2 linked regions of the Homo sapiens genome follow. The protein of the gene in region 1 purifies or fractionates together with the protein of each later gene. This does not show direct contact. Each region holds a gene or a part of one and is shown on either strand. Other genes may lie near its edges.

Region 1 (6,983 bases):
AATCCCAGCTACTCGGGAGGCTGAGGCACGAGAATCGCTTAAACCCAGGAGGTGGAGGTTACAGTGAGCTGAGATCGCGCCACTGCACTCCAACCTGGGCGACAGAGAGAGACTCTGTCTCAAAAAAAAAAAAAAAAAAAAAAAAGTTTAGTCGGGCTGGTGGATAAGGAGGAACAGTTTAGTCTCTATAATTTCTATCTCAAGACTGTCCCTAAAGAACTTATATATGACTTTGAACTGAAGATCTGATTTCCAACACCTTTCTACTCAGCCATAAAAACAGCAGCCCAAGTCCTTCCATAGAGACGGTATAAGACTATGATTAGGTTGGACACGGCATCTCACGCCTGTAATCCCAGCACTCTGGGAAGCAGACGTGGGTGGATCACTTGACCTCGGGAGTTTGAGACCAGCCTGGACAACATGGCAAAATCCCATCTCTACAAAAAATACAAAAATTGGCTCGGCATGGTGGCACACTCCAGTTGTCCTGACTACTGGGAAGGCTGAGATGGGAGGGTTGCTTGAGCCCGAGAAGTTGAGGCTGCAGTGAGCCATGATTGTGCCACTGTATGCCAGCCTTGGTGACAGAGCAAGACCCTGACTCCAAAAAAAAAAAAAATAGGCCAGGCGCGGTGGCTCACACCTGTAATCGCAGCACTTTGGGAGGCCCAGGTGGGCAGATCACGGGGTCAGGAGTTTGAGACCAGCCTGAACAACGTGGTGAAACCCCGTCTCTACTAAAAATACAAAAACTGGCCGGGCATAGTGGTGCACGCCTGTAATCCCAGCTCCTCAGGAGGCTGAGGCAGGAGAATAGCTTGAACCCGGGAGGCAGAGGTTGCAGTGAGCTGAGATCACGCCACTGCACTCCAGCCTGGGCGACAGAGAAAGACTTCATCTCAAAAAAAAAAAAAAGAAAAAAAAGAAAAGAATCACTTGAACCCAGCAGGCAGAAGTTGCAGTGAGCCGAGGTCATGCCACTGCACTCCAGTGTGGGCGTCAGAGTGAGACTCCATCTAAAAAAGCTTGCAAACTTGGGCTTAGAACCAACAGACCAGGTTCTAATCTTACTTTCACTACCACTTAGCTGACCTTCCATTCCCTCACCTGGAAAAAGATGAAAAAAACCACAATTCACGGGTCTAAAAATATGTGCGGCACATACTTCTCTATTGGAGTGGCAGGAGCACAGGCATGGGTTCTGAGAACCACGGACAAGTTATCACACCTCTGTGCCTTAGTCTCCTCATGTATAAAACGAAGCTATTGGCATTTTCCTCCTAGGGTCATTTTGAGAATTTAATTGTAAAGGGTCCCTTGGCTGGGTGCAGTGGCTCATGCCTGTAATCCCAGCACTTTGGGAGGCTGAGGCAGGCAGATCACTTGAGCCCAGGAGTTTGAGACCAGCCTGGCCAACTGGGAGAAACACCAACTCTACTAAAAATACAAGAACTAGCCAGATGGGGTGGCGCACGCCTGTAGTCCCAGCTACTTGGGAGGCTGAGGCACGAGAATCACTTGAACCCAAGAGGCAGAGGTTGCAGTGAGCCAACATCATGCCACTGCACTCCAGCCTGGACAACAGAGCAAGACTGTCTCAAAAAAAAAAAAAAAGAAAAGAAAAAGAAAAAGAAAAAACAGGGTCCCAATAAATAAAGTACTTGACACACAGAGTAGGTACTCAATTAATTAGTCCTATCCTAAGTCTGGACTCAGCTGTCTCCCTCATCACAGCAGGACTAGCACATCATGCAGACCAGGAGTCAGCCTTTTAGGAACCAATATCCAACCTTTGGGCTTCTCCCATCATTTCCAGGGAGGACAACATCATCTCACAACCCCAAGCCTCTCTAATCACAATCAATATGGTAAACATTTTTGTAATATATATTATGGACTGAACACCAGTAAAACGTTTCAAGGAATGTCTGCTTTAGGGTACTCACAGGCCAATGAAGATACAAAAACATGCACCATCAATATAGGACTTAATAAACATTAACGTGTACCAAGTGTCTACGGTATGCCACAGAGGAAGACTCACTCACCAAAGGGACTAAAGGAATGGCTTGTAGAGGTGGGCCTTGAAGAACGGGGGCAAGTGGGGGAGTGCCATAGCCCTTTTCAGAACAGCTGGGAATACAAATCTACTAATGCTGAGGGGACTGAATGCCAAGAGGTACATCCTAGCTCTTCCAACAGGGGCCACTACACTAAAACCCGAGGAAACTGGGTGGACACCAAGCATTAGCCCTCCAGGCCAGTGGTTCTCAAACAAGTTGGGGGGTTGGGGGAATCACACACACCCTCTGTGACATCTAGCAATGTCTAGAGACAGTTTTGATTGTCATGCCTGGGGAGCAGGGGTGCTACTGTTATCTAGCAGGTAGATGCCAGAGATGCTGTTAAACATCCTACAATGCACAGAGCACATCCCACAGCAAAGGATTATCTCGCTGGAAATGTCAATAGTGCCACTGTTGAGACACTCAGTCTCCAGGAAAGGTACTCAGTATGTGCTACTTCAGCAAGGGCAGCCTCTTAGGCTAGGATATCATTCAGCTAGAACATCTCTGGGGTGGAAGAATACAGCAGGATTCCAAATGGACATCTGAGGTGAGAGGAATCCACGGTGTATCGTTTAGAGTTGGGAAGACACAAAATAGAGGCTTTACCTGACCACCCTTTCTAAAGACACCACCTAAGTCACTTTATCACATCCACCTGTCTCATTTCCTGTATAGCACTTATGACAGCCTAAAACCATCTTATTTTCTCCTTATCTTCTTTCCCCTCTGGAATATAAGTTCCCTGTGAGCATGGAGTTGGTTTATTCTATTCTCCGCTGTTTCCACAACTTGCAACTGAATAACTCCTGATAAACAATAAGCATTCAACAAATTTGGTAAATTAGTTAATTTCGGCTTTTGACGGTTTCGGTGGTAGGAAAAGGGCGAGTTCGAGGCAACTACCTCTGACATAGCGGTGGGGGGTGGGGATCGACACCTCAAGCATTCTAAAGACTGGAGCGCTGGGTCTGAAATTCAAAAGTGCCGCCTCCAGAGAAGAGTAGAAAGGAGTTGGAGTGTACCAATGCGAGGCGAGAGAGGACGCTGGGCTGAAACAGAAGTGCACCGTTTGGGACCGAAGGCCACGGGAGAGCTACCAGCGTCCCCACATTCTCCGGAGGGGGTCAAGTAAGGCTGGGAAGCCGGCTCCGGCCGGTCCGGCGGGGAGCCGCGCGGCGGAGGACTGAGCTGGCGGGAAGCTGGTTCCAGACGCGACTCCTTTGGCGGGAGGGGGAAGTAGGCGGGGTAACTGGCAGCTCGGCCTGTACCACTGGGCCGGGGCGGGGGCCGCGCAGGAAGCGGCAAGTGACACCTGGAAGGGGTTCGAGTTAGAGCACCCGCGCGGGGAGAGTGGGTTCGAGCAGAACCCCCTCTGGACGGGCAAGGAACCCGTAAGGGTCCGCGACGTTTCAGGTTACATGGGCTGGGTTGTACTACTCCGGCACCGGATAAGGGGTCCAGGCCGGGACGTGCGCAGGGCCGCGGCCAGGTTTATCTCACCAGAGCCATTGGGTCCAATGATGGCGGTGAACCTCTGAAATGGTCCGATAATCTGTCGACCCTTGTACGACTTAAAGTTCTCAATCTCAATCAGTTTCAGGAACCCCATGACGGCCGCGGCGCCGGCGGCAGTAGGACAGGCCGCGCCGTACGCCCGAGAACTGAGGTAGCCCGCGCGGGAAACGCCGCAGTGCAAGCCGGGCGACCGGCAAATGTCGCGAGAATACGTCCAGGCCTAACGGGATTTTCGCCTTCCGGCAGGAGTGGGACCAGGGGCGGGGACTGATGTTGCGTATACGAGGAGCGAGCTGACGACTGGCGTGGTGCCTCCGCCCCCCTTTCTTGTTGCATGGCAACAACAAACACTTGCTCCTGCGGACCAGATCCCCGGAGGAGTTGTTGCTGGGCGGAGTCAGAGCAGTTCTTGAGGTTCAAGGAGGCGGGGGAGACCTGAGCTCACGCTTGCTGAGACAGAAGTCACAGCAGGATTATGCCCCTCAGGGCAAGAGGAAGGTGGGAGCTCGGCTGTGGCTTTAGCCTGGCCAGCTTTCAAGGCTAGGACAAGGACAGGGTCGGGAATTGGAAGGACCCGGGGGGAGCGGAGAGCTGGACGGGAAGGAGGGGCCAACGGGAGGATTCAGTGTTAGGTGAGCTCAGACTTTGCTAATGGTGGGGTGGGATTGGTGGCGGGACGGGTTGCGAAGGCGGACGGGTTGTGAATGGGACTGGGGCTACTCCCAGGCAACAGGGATACAGGCTGGGGAAGGCTACGGCCTGAGATACTACCCCTATCCCCTGCCTCCCTCCTGTTGTACCAAGCAGAGTTCAGAAACTGCCGCCGTAACCCAAGAACAAAGTTGCATGCAGAGCCAACCTAAGAGCTTCAAAATCGGGATTCCTTACTGAGAAAGGTATTTTGTGTGAACCCCCAGGAGTCAGGGTCCCTAAGCCAGCGCTCTCCACCTCCACCTACCTCTGCCTCCATGCCTCTCCCCCATCCCATTCCCACAGCTCTATACCACAATGCCACCTTACCTCTCTTCCCTCTCTGCTCTCTATCATTAATAAGGCAGGGGCCTTAGCAATCCAAGAAGCTTAAAATGTCAGCTGAATCTTCCCCTTCAGTGACCTTATACTGTAATGGCAGGTGAAACCAGTAGGTAAGTTGGTGCCATTCTCAGACTTAAACATGGAAAGGATCTGGTGGTTGCCATAATTATTCCTTTAACTATTTATTAAATTATGTCCGAAGGCTAGAAAGAGTCCTAAAGACTTAGGACAAGTCCAGGAAAGTGAGGAAGTGGCTGGGCATGGTGGCTGACAACTGTAATCCCATCGTGAGGGAGGCAGGCCAAGGCAGGAGGATCACTTGAGACCAGCAGTTCAAGACCAGCCTGGGCAACATAGTGAGACCCTATCTCTACTAAAAATTAAAAAATTAGCTGGGTGTGGCAGCTCTCACCTCTGGTCTACCCAGGATGCCGAAGCAGGAGGATCACTTGAGCCTGGGAGGTTGAGGCTGTAGTGAGTGGTGTCCGCACCACTTCACTCCAGCCTAGGTGACAGAGCAATACCCTGTCTCAAAAATAAATAAAGGGAGGAAGCTTGGTAGATGGAATCTAGTAGGGGAGCCATAAATGAAGTTCAGCTGGGAGAAACAATCAGGCTGAGGGGATAAAATGGCTAAAAGACAGCAATCTCATGTAATCCATGGGGAAATACTGTTCCCTTTTAAAAGATGAGATGGTGAGCCTGGGTAACATAGCAAAACCCAATCTCTACAAAAAAATTTTAAAAATTAGGCAGGCATGGTGGCACACACCTGTAGTCCCAGCTACTCAGGAGGCTGGGGCAGGAAGATCCTTTGAGCCCAGGAGTTTGAGGCTGCAGTGAGCCATGATTGCACCACTACACTCCATCCTGGGCAACAGAGAGAGACCCCATCTAAAACAAATTAAAAATAAAATAAATTTTATTCTCTGCCTCAGCCTTCCAAGTAGCTAGGATTACAGGTGCCCACTGCCACGCCTGGCTAATTTTTTTGTATTTTTAGTAAAGACAGGGTTTCACTATGTTGGCCAGGCTGGTCTTGAACTCCTGACCTCCTGATCCACCTGCCTCGGCCTCCCAAAGTGCTGGGATTACAGGCGTGAGCCACCGCGCCCGGCCAAAAATAAAATAAAATTTTAAATTTAAAAAAGATGAGATGGCACTTGGGGGGAAAATTAAATTGGATCCTTATCTCACACCATACACAAAATGCAACTCCAAGTGGATTAAAAACCTAAGTGACGCCGGGCACAATGGCTCATGCCTGTAATACCAGCACTTTGGGAGGCCGAGGCAGGAGAATTGCTTGAGTTCAAGACTAGCTTGGGCAATATAGTGAGACCCCATCTATATTAAAAAAAATTAAATGGGGCCAGGTGTGGTGGCTCATGCCTGTAATCCCAGCACTTTGGGAGGCCAAGGAGGGTGGATCATAAGGTCAGGAGATTGAGACTATCCTGGCTAACACTGTGAAACCCCATCTCTACTAAAAATACAAAAATCAGCCGGGCATATATGTTCAACTACTTCACAGTTACAAAATGGAAAACAAAACAAAACACCAAAAAGATCCAAATAGCTATAGGAGGAATTAAAGAATCACGCTCCAAACAAAGGAACAGCACATACAAAGGCCCCGGGGTGGGAACAATTACTGTGTTGGAGGACTTGATCAGCTTGCCTGGAGCACTGTAAGCAAGGGAGACAGTGGTTTGAGACAAATTGGAGAGGTGTGCAGGAACTAGATCTTGAAAGCCCACAGTAAGGAGTTTGGATCTGATTCTAAGTATAGTGGGAAGCTAGTGGAGGATTTAAGCAGGTGAGAGACATGATCAGATTTATGTTTGCTAAAGTTTTTTTGGCTGCAGCTTTGGCTGGGTTACATGCCAAAAGTGAGCTTCCCAAAATATGAAGGAACACAGGCAAATTTAGCTTTCTAGCCTTTCATTTGACCAGAAAATAAGTAATAAAAGTAAAAAAAAAAAAAAAAAAAAAAAAAAGGGTGGGGGGACATATATTTCAGAAAAGAAAGCTGCTTCTGGTTTCTGTGATTGGGCTATAGGAGTCAATAGAGGAAGCTGGAATACCAACATGGAGACAGTTGTGGTTATTCAGGAAGCTGGCAATGGTGGCTTGGATAAGGGTTATTTTGAAAGAAGAAGGAGTGAGGGAAAGGAAGGATTAAAGGATGTCTCCTAGGTTTTTGACCGGAGCAACTTGGTGAATGGTGGTGCCACTTACTGAAATAAGGAAAACTGAATAGAGTATAATGAAAAAGGAGTGTTGTAGATGTGTTTGAGGCTTAGAAAGGTGAGCAGGGGTCAGATCATGAAGAACCTTATAAATCTGGCAAAGGGGGTT
Region 2 (7,030 bases), on another chromosome or scaffold:
AGGTCTGCAGCCACCCCAGCTCATACCTCTCTGCCTCCCCGCTCTCAAGGAGGGTCTGCCGCATGTGATGAAAGTGTCTACTCTCAGGGAAAGCTCAGCCATGGCTTCCCCACTGCCCCGGGAGATGGAGGAGGAGCTGGTGCCTACTGGCTCTGAGCCAGGTACCAATGGGTGCAGGGTGGAGCCAGGTGGCTGGGAGGGGGGTGGGAAGGACAGAGGCTGCCCCCTCTTTCTGTCTTGGGGGGTGGTTGAGTGATGATTCTGTTGAGATAGGGAAGGAGTACCAAGGCAGTACAGGATGAGTTTGAAAGGTTCTCAGCTTCTCTTGAGACTCTTCAGAACTGTTTGGGATCATAAATCTCCAACAGGTGTAAGAGCAGACAGGGACCTTTGAGATGATATGGATCAAGCTGCATGCTTTGCAGAGGGGAAAACTGAGGCCCACAGGGAAAAATGGAGTGTACAAGTGGGAGTTTGAACCCAGACCTCCTGGCTCCTTGTGTAGACTCTTTTCTTCTATTTAGCCAAATGTGTAGGAGGTACGGGATTCCATCAGGAGGACTGTGGACGAGGGTACTTCCAAGGTCATTTAGCTTTATATAGAAGGTAGATTTCTGGTCCTGTTTTTTTTTTTCTTCCCATAGCAGATTTACTTTTGTTTGACTTGGGTCAATAGTAAGTTTGCATTCCCAGTCACACACCAGATGACAGTGGGGAGGTGGCCTGGGAGTGTGCTGTGGGTGGGGGAGGAGGCAGCCTGGAGGCAGGATAGAGAAGCTCAGCTGAGATTGAAAGTTTACTATGGATGATAGAGAAGAGTGTCACATAAGGTGAAAAAACTAGATTGGGAATATGGGGGGGCTGACTGCTTGATAGGGACAGGCAGGCATTTGTTTATTGGCTCATTTGTTCATTCATTCTTTTGTTTAATTATAACTTATGCTAGGGGCAAAATACAGTACAGGAAGAAGTAAGGTGCCAGGTGGGTCCTTAAATAGCTTCAGCTTAAAAGGGGAATTGGCTAAAACATTTTGGGAGTTTGAAGAAGGGAGAAGATGCTTTGGGGATGTGTGTAGAAAATCAAGGAAGGCTTCATGGAAGAGGTGGCATATGACTTGTGCCTAGAAAGATGTGAATATTCTTAAATCGGAGGGTGGGAGATGAGGTGGAACAGGAAACAAAGAAGTTCTGCTTCCTGGTTCTTCTGACAGCTCCCCCACCAACCCTTTCCTTTTGGTAGGTGACACTCGGGCCAAACCCCCTGTCAAGCCCAAACCCCGGGCCCTGCCTGCCAAGCCAGCCCTGCCTGCCAAACCCAGCCTGCTGGTGCCTGTTGGGCCTCGGCCTCCCCGGGGTCCCCTGGCTGAGTTGCCTTCTGCCAGGAAGATGAACATGCTGGCAGGACCCCAGCCCTATGGTGGCAGCAAGCGCCCCCTTCCCTTTGCACCAAGGCCTGCGGTTGAGGCCTCCACTGGAGGAGAAGCCACCCAAGAGACTGGGAAAGAGGAGGCTGGGAAAGAGGAGCCACCCCCTTTGACACCCCCAGCTCGATGTGCAGCCCCAGGGGGTGTACGGAAGGCCCCTGCCCCTTTCCGCCCAGCCTCAGAGCGCTTCGCGGCCACCACGGTGGAAGAGATCCTGGCCAAGATGGAGCAGCCTCGGAAGGAGGTCCTTGCCAGCCCCGACCGCCTGTGGGGTTCCCGCCTCACCTTTAACCACGATGGCAGCTCGCGATATGGCCCCAGGACCTATGGCACGACCACTGCTCCCAGGGATGAGGATGGCAGCACCCTCTTCAGGGGATGGTCCCAGGAGGGGCCAGTAAAGTCTCCAGCAGAGTGCCGGGAAGAGCACAGCAAGACCCCTGAGGAGAGGTGAAGGGTGGGAGGTTGTATATTTTGTGGCAGCCTGGAGGTCAGGTGGGGTGGGATTGGGTGGGGGCTGGGGACCAAGTGCATGGCCCCATATAGGGTTGTGACTTTTACCTGTAGGTTGGTTGTGTGCTGTGAGTACAGGCAGATCCCGATCTAGGTCACAAATCATTCCCCAGCAGATGGTGTTATCATTACTGTATGCTTTTAAAGTTGTAGTTTTCTTTACAGAGTTGATGCAGGTTTATGTTAGAGAGTTCAAATGTACAGTATAGAAGTTTAATAGACAATAGACTTTTTTTTTTTTTTTTTTTGAGATGGTGTTTTGCTCTTGTCACCCAGGCTGGAGTGCAGTGGTGCGATCTCGGCTCACTGCAACCTCTGCCTCCCAGGTTCAAGTGATTCTCCTTCCTCAGCCTCCTGAGTAGCTGGGATTACAGGCGTGGGCCACCACGCCCAGCTAATTTTTTTGTATTTTTAGTAGAGTTGGGGTTTCACCCTGTTGGCCAGGCTGGTCTTGAACTCCTGACCTCAGGTGATCTGCCTGCTTCGGCCTCCCAAAGTGCTGAGATTACAGGCATGAGCCACCACGCCCGGCCAAGAAGTTTAGTTTCTATATACTGAGAGCTGGGCACCAAACTTTGCCTCGTTGGCATCCTGTTTGTTCAAGGGAGTATTAGATCCATTGTAGAGATGAGGAAACTGAGGCTCAAAAATGACTCCATAGTCTCGGCAAGTTAAGAGGCAGAGACAGATGTTTGTTTGATTCCAAATCCTCTGCTCTTAAGTGCCAGCTCTTACAGTGGTCAGAGCAGTGTGCCAGTCCTGGGGTGGGGCTGCGTGTGTCAGGATGAGTAGGGCACAGTCTCTGCCTGTGAGGTGGAATCTGATGGGAGAGGTAAGAGAGGAACACATCTTTTTTTTTTTTTTTTTTTTTGAGACGGAGTCTCGCTCTGTCATCCAGGCTGGAGTGCAGTGGCGCAATCTCGGCTCACTGCAAGCTCCACCTCCTGGGTTCACGCCATTCTCCTGTCTCAGCCTCCCGAGTAGCTGGGACTACAGGCGCCTGCCACCACACCCGGATAATTTTTTTGTATTTTTAGTAGAGATGGGGTTTCACTGTGTTAGCCAGGATGGTCTCGATCTCCTGACCTCGTGATCTGCCTGCCTCGGCCTCCCAAAGTGCTGGGATTACAGGCGTGAGCCACTGCGCCCTGCGAGAGGAACACATCTTGATGCCAGGCCAGCTAGTGTCTGCACAGAGATTTTGGCTGGTTGGAGATATTTGCATATGATACGCTTCTCCAGAGTTGCCACTAGTGTAAAGCAAGGCTGGCCAGGAGGTGCTTCTTGGGGTGCTGGGCACGGGACTTTGGAGGAAGAGGCTGAGGCATCTCAGGAGCCATCAGCTGCACAGAGGCTGTCCTTAGTGCTGGGAGAGCCAGCTTGAGGTATGGCTGGCTCCTTGGGCCTTTAACAGCTCTGCTGGGCTCAGAGGCTCCCTTTCTCTTCCTACTGCTATGAAGGCAAGAGCTGGTGTGGTCTGGGCTAAGCGGGAAGCTGAGGGTCCCTGCCCTGCCCTGCCCTCTGGCCTTGCCCTTCTCTCACCTGAAAGTGTCTGGAGCCTTGGCCCCAGAGCTAGTCCTTTGCCTGTCCCAGACCAGGGTGCTGTGAGGTCACACTCTTGCCCAGGCTGGGTTCCACCCGCCATCTTCCTTCTCTCCCTCACTCCAAGTAGGGCTTAAGAACAACTTCAACCCTGGAAAATCACTCTTTCCTCTTCCCCTCCCCCACTGCAATTCTTCAAGAAGTATTGGCAGGGCAGCAGGACCAGCTGCACTCTTCCTGGCTAGAGGAGAACTTTAACTCCTTATGGGTTAAAGGAAAGAGGAGTTATCTTTTTAGGAGCTGTTGAGAGGTCTGGGCATCCAGGATGCTTTTCCTAAAGTAGCTGGGGAATTTAACCCTTCATGCTCAGGTAGGGAATAAGCACTGTTTTCTGGGGCACTTGCCGAATGGAAAATGGACAGATTCTGTGTCCCTAATAGTTGCAGGCAGGGCTCAAGAGTAAATGGCTAGGAGGGTTTAACCTTTGGGTGCTGTTAAAGTTGCACTGGGAGACTCTCCCACATTTTCCATTCTGTGACAGACTCTAACATTCCGTGCTTCCATTTCCTGTCCTCGTCCCTCACAGGAGCCTTCCTTCCGACCTGGCCTTCAACGGGGACCTGGCTAAGGCAGCCAGCTCGGAGCTACCTGCTGATGTGAGTTATCCTCCAGTTATGAATCAGAATCACGTATTTTAGAGCTGGAAGGGTCATATGAGATCATCTTTTCTACTCCTTGTAGTTCAGATGGGGAAACTGAGGCCCATGGGGAGAGTGACTCACTGGAGGGCTGGCCCTGGGATTTTTCGACTCCTGGGCCAGTGCTCTTGATCACCAAAGTGGCTAGGTGTGGTTAAGGCCATGAGGCCATTCATCATAAACAGTAATGATAGTATCCACAACAACTGCCATTGATTAAGTCCCTACTATGTGCTGGGCCTGTCCTGGGAACGTTAACCAACTCAATCCTTGTGATAACTCTGGCTAGTAGACCTGGTTAGTCCCATGTGAGAGATGAGAGCACCTGTACTCACAAAGGGTAAGTAACTTAGGCTGAGGCAGCAGCTACTGTGTCTGCCTCCCATGCTTTCCCTGGCTGGGCTGCCTTTTCTGAGTTCAGAAGAGGGGTGAGTCCTTTTGCTGAGATTTTCCCATCATACTCCCGTTCTTGAAGATGGTCAGCCTGCTTTCTTGAGTAAACAAGGTACAGGATGGCCCTTTTTGCTCATACAGCCCTTGCTAGCTGGAGATCTGACTTGATTCATTTGTCCATCCAGCAAGCAGTGACTGAGCGCCTGTTAGGAGCTGGATGTTGGAGATAGCTGTGAAGGTAGAGTAGAGAGTGCAGGGACGAGTGTGGTCAGGGAAGGTGTCACTGTGAAGGGCAGAGGCTGAGCTGTGTGCATGTCTGGAGAGCAGCATTCTTGGTAGAGGGCACAGCAAGTACAAAGGCATTGGTGCTTTCCTGGCAAGGAGGCCAGGATGTCTGCCTGGCAGTGAGAGAGGAGTTAGGTGGTAGTGAGGACCAACGGGTTGGGGGGTTGGATTGTGTCAAGTCTCGAAGGCCTCTAGAAAGACTTTGGCTTCAGTGAGAGCAACAGGCCATTTGAAGGGTTTGCAGGAGAGGCATGGGATGCTGCTGTCTTAGTTGTGAAGAGTCACCTGGCCCACTGGATTAAGAATCAGTTGCAGGGAGGTAAGATCAGCAGCATGGACCAGTCAGGGGGCTGTTGGAATAGTCCAAGTGAGAGATGATGACGGCTTGGACCCTGGAGGTAGCCTACGGTGGAGATGGGGAGAAGTGGTTGGTTCTGGATAGAATTTGAAGGCATGGTGGAAAGGACTTTCAGATAGATAGAGAGCACAGAATCAAGGGTGACCCCACGGCTTTTGGCCTGAGCAACCGGAAGGATGAGTTTATGGTTGCCGAGACGGGGACTTCTAAGGGTGAAGCAGGATCGGGGGAGATGGGAGGAGTTTGCTTTGTGGATTTGTTGAATTTGAGATGGTTTTCAGACATCCATGTGGAAACGTCAAGCGGATGGTTGGGTAGTCGAGTCTGGCCTTCAAGGGAAGTGAGCAAATTTGAAAGGAACACTTGGGAATTGTCAGAGTAGGAATGCTTGTGAAGACTGGCTGAGATTACTGAGAGTGGGGATGGTGCAGGAGGGGAGGGCCCAGAGGCACAGCCAAGGAGACTGGGAGGACAGTGAGAGAGTCCACCAAGTGGAGACAGCCTCCAGGACTGGGGGAGGGCGCCATCAGCTGTCAGATGCCACTGACAGGTCAAGTAAGATGAGCACAGAGAATTGGATTCAGCTCCAGGGAGGTCATCCGTGACCTTGACGAGAGTAGTTAGGTGGCAAGGTAAAGGAGAAAGCCTGTTTGGAGTGGTTTCAAGAGAGAAGGGGACAAGAAGAACTGTGGATATTAATAGTGAATATAGACAGGGCTTTCAAGAAAATGGATGGTAGCTAGTGAGTGATGTGGGGTCAAGAGTGGTTTTTTGGTTTGCTTTTTTGGCTTTTCAAGACAGAAGAAATTAGAGCAGTTTGTGTGCTGATGGAAATGATCCAGTAGAGAGGGAAAAAAAAATCGATGCAGGAGAGAGAGGAGGGATTGACCTCAGCCCCAAGCGAGGACAGTGCCTGATAGCAGAAGGGGAGGCAGAGTGCTTGGGCTCCCATGCAGGAAGTAGGTGGTGTGTGTGTGTGTGGCGGTGGGGGGGTTGTCGGGGGTTCTCTGCTGGTGGCCTCTGTGTTCTCAGGGAACAGGAAGCAAGGCCATCAGCTGAGAGAGGATTGGGGGAGGTGTGGAGGTCTGACGGGAGAAGATGCTAAAACATTGCCTGGGAGAGTCATGGAGTGAATGGCAGGGGGAGTGCCGTGGGATTCTGGGCAGCTCTAGGGCCGGCTTGAGGTCAGCAGTGAATCTGGAGTGAGACCAGCTGTCACGATTGTGTGTTTTTATCCAGCCACATGCAGCTACTCAGGTGCTGGGCTAGGATTGGCCCAGCTGTATTGGAGAGCTGTATTTAAACAGGTTAAACAGTATGATGAAGCAGATGAGGGAGTTGAGTGTTGAGTAAAAAGTGACGTTAATGGTGATAAGAAGAGAGGTGAGGGTATGAGGGGAGTGGGGGACAATGAGAAAGAATTAGGGTTAAGGGGCTGTGCTATGAGAGGGGCTGAAAATAAGGGCGTTGGGGAAATAGAGTGAGCCGGTCAGATAGGCGGTGGGGGTGGGCAAGTGGGATACTTGGGATTGAGATGATGCAGAGGTTGCAGCCACTGGTAAGGATGAGGTCTAGGGTGTGACCTTGAGAGGATGGGTCGCACAGTCACTGAGGAAGAGGAGGTCAACGAACCAGAGGCTGGAAGGGTCGCATCTGGCTATGGAGATGACTGTAAGCTATCACAACAATGATGGAGAGGGTTGCAGTGATGCAGCGGTTATGGTTTTCAAGGAATGATGGGTGCGTAAGGGTCAATAACAAGAAAGAATTGTGGGTGCTGTAGTTTAAGGGCACGAGCTTTGACATTAGAACGTTGC

What was found.
Region 2: the proteins of RIBC1 (region 1) and TNKS1BP1 purify together in Homo sapiens (co-immunoprecipitation; 3 studies listed by BioGRID and IntAct, with this or other methods). This does not show direct contact.

Annotation. Positions count from the first base shown.
Region 1 is NC_000023.11:53,418,920-53,425,902, forward strand, and holds the start of RIBC1 (RIB43A-like with coiled-coils protein 1), read left to right. Parts: upstream 1-3,953; 5' UTR 3,954-4,085; exon of another isoform or gene 4,086-4,219; intron 4,220-4,394; 5' UTR 4,395-4,483; intron 4,484-6,983. Other genes in the region: SMC1A (structural maintenance of chromosomes protein 1A), read right to left, coding at 3,573-3,681.
Region 2 is NC_000011.10:57,314,923-57,321,952, reverse strand, and holds part of TNKS1BP1 (182 kDa tankyrase-1-binding protein), read left to right. Parts: intron 1-2; 5' UTR 3-67; coding exon 68-161; intron 162-1,240; coding exon 1,241-1,874; intron 1,875-4,065; coding exon 4,066-4,135; intron 4,136-7,030.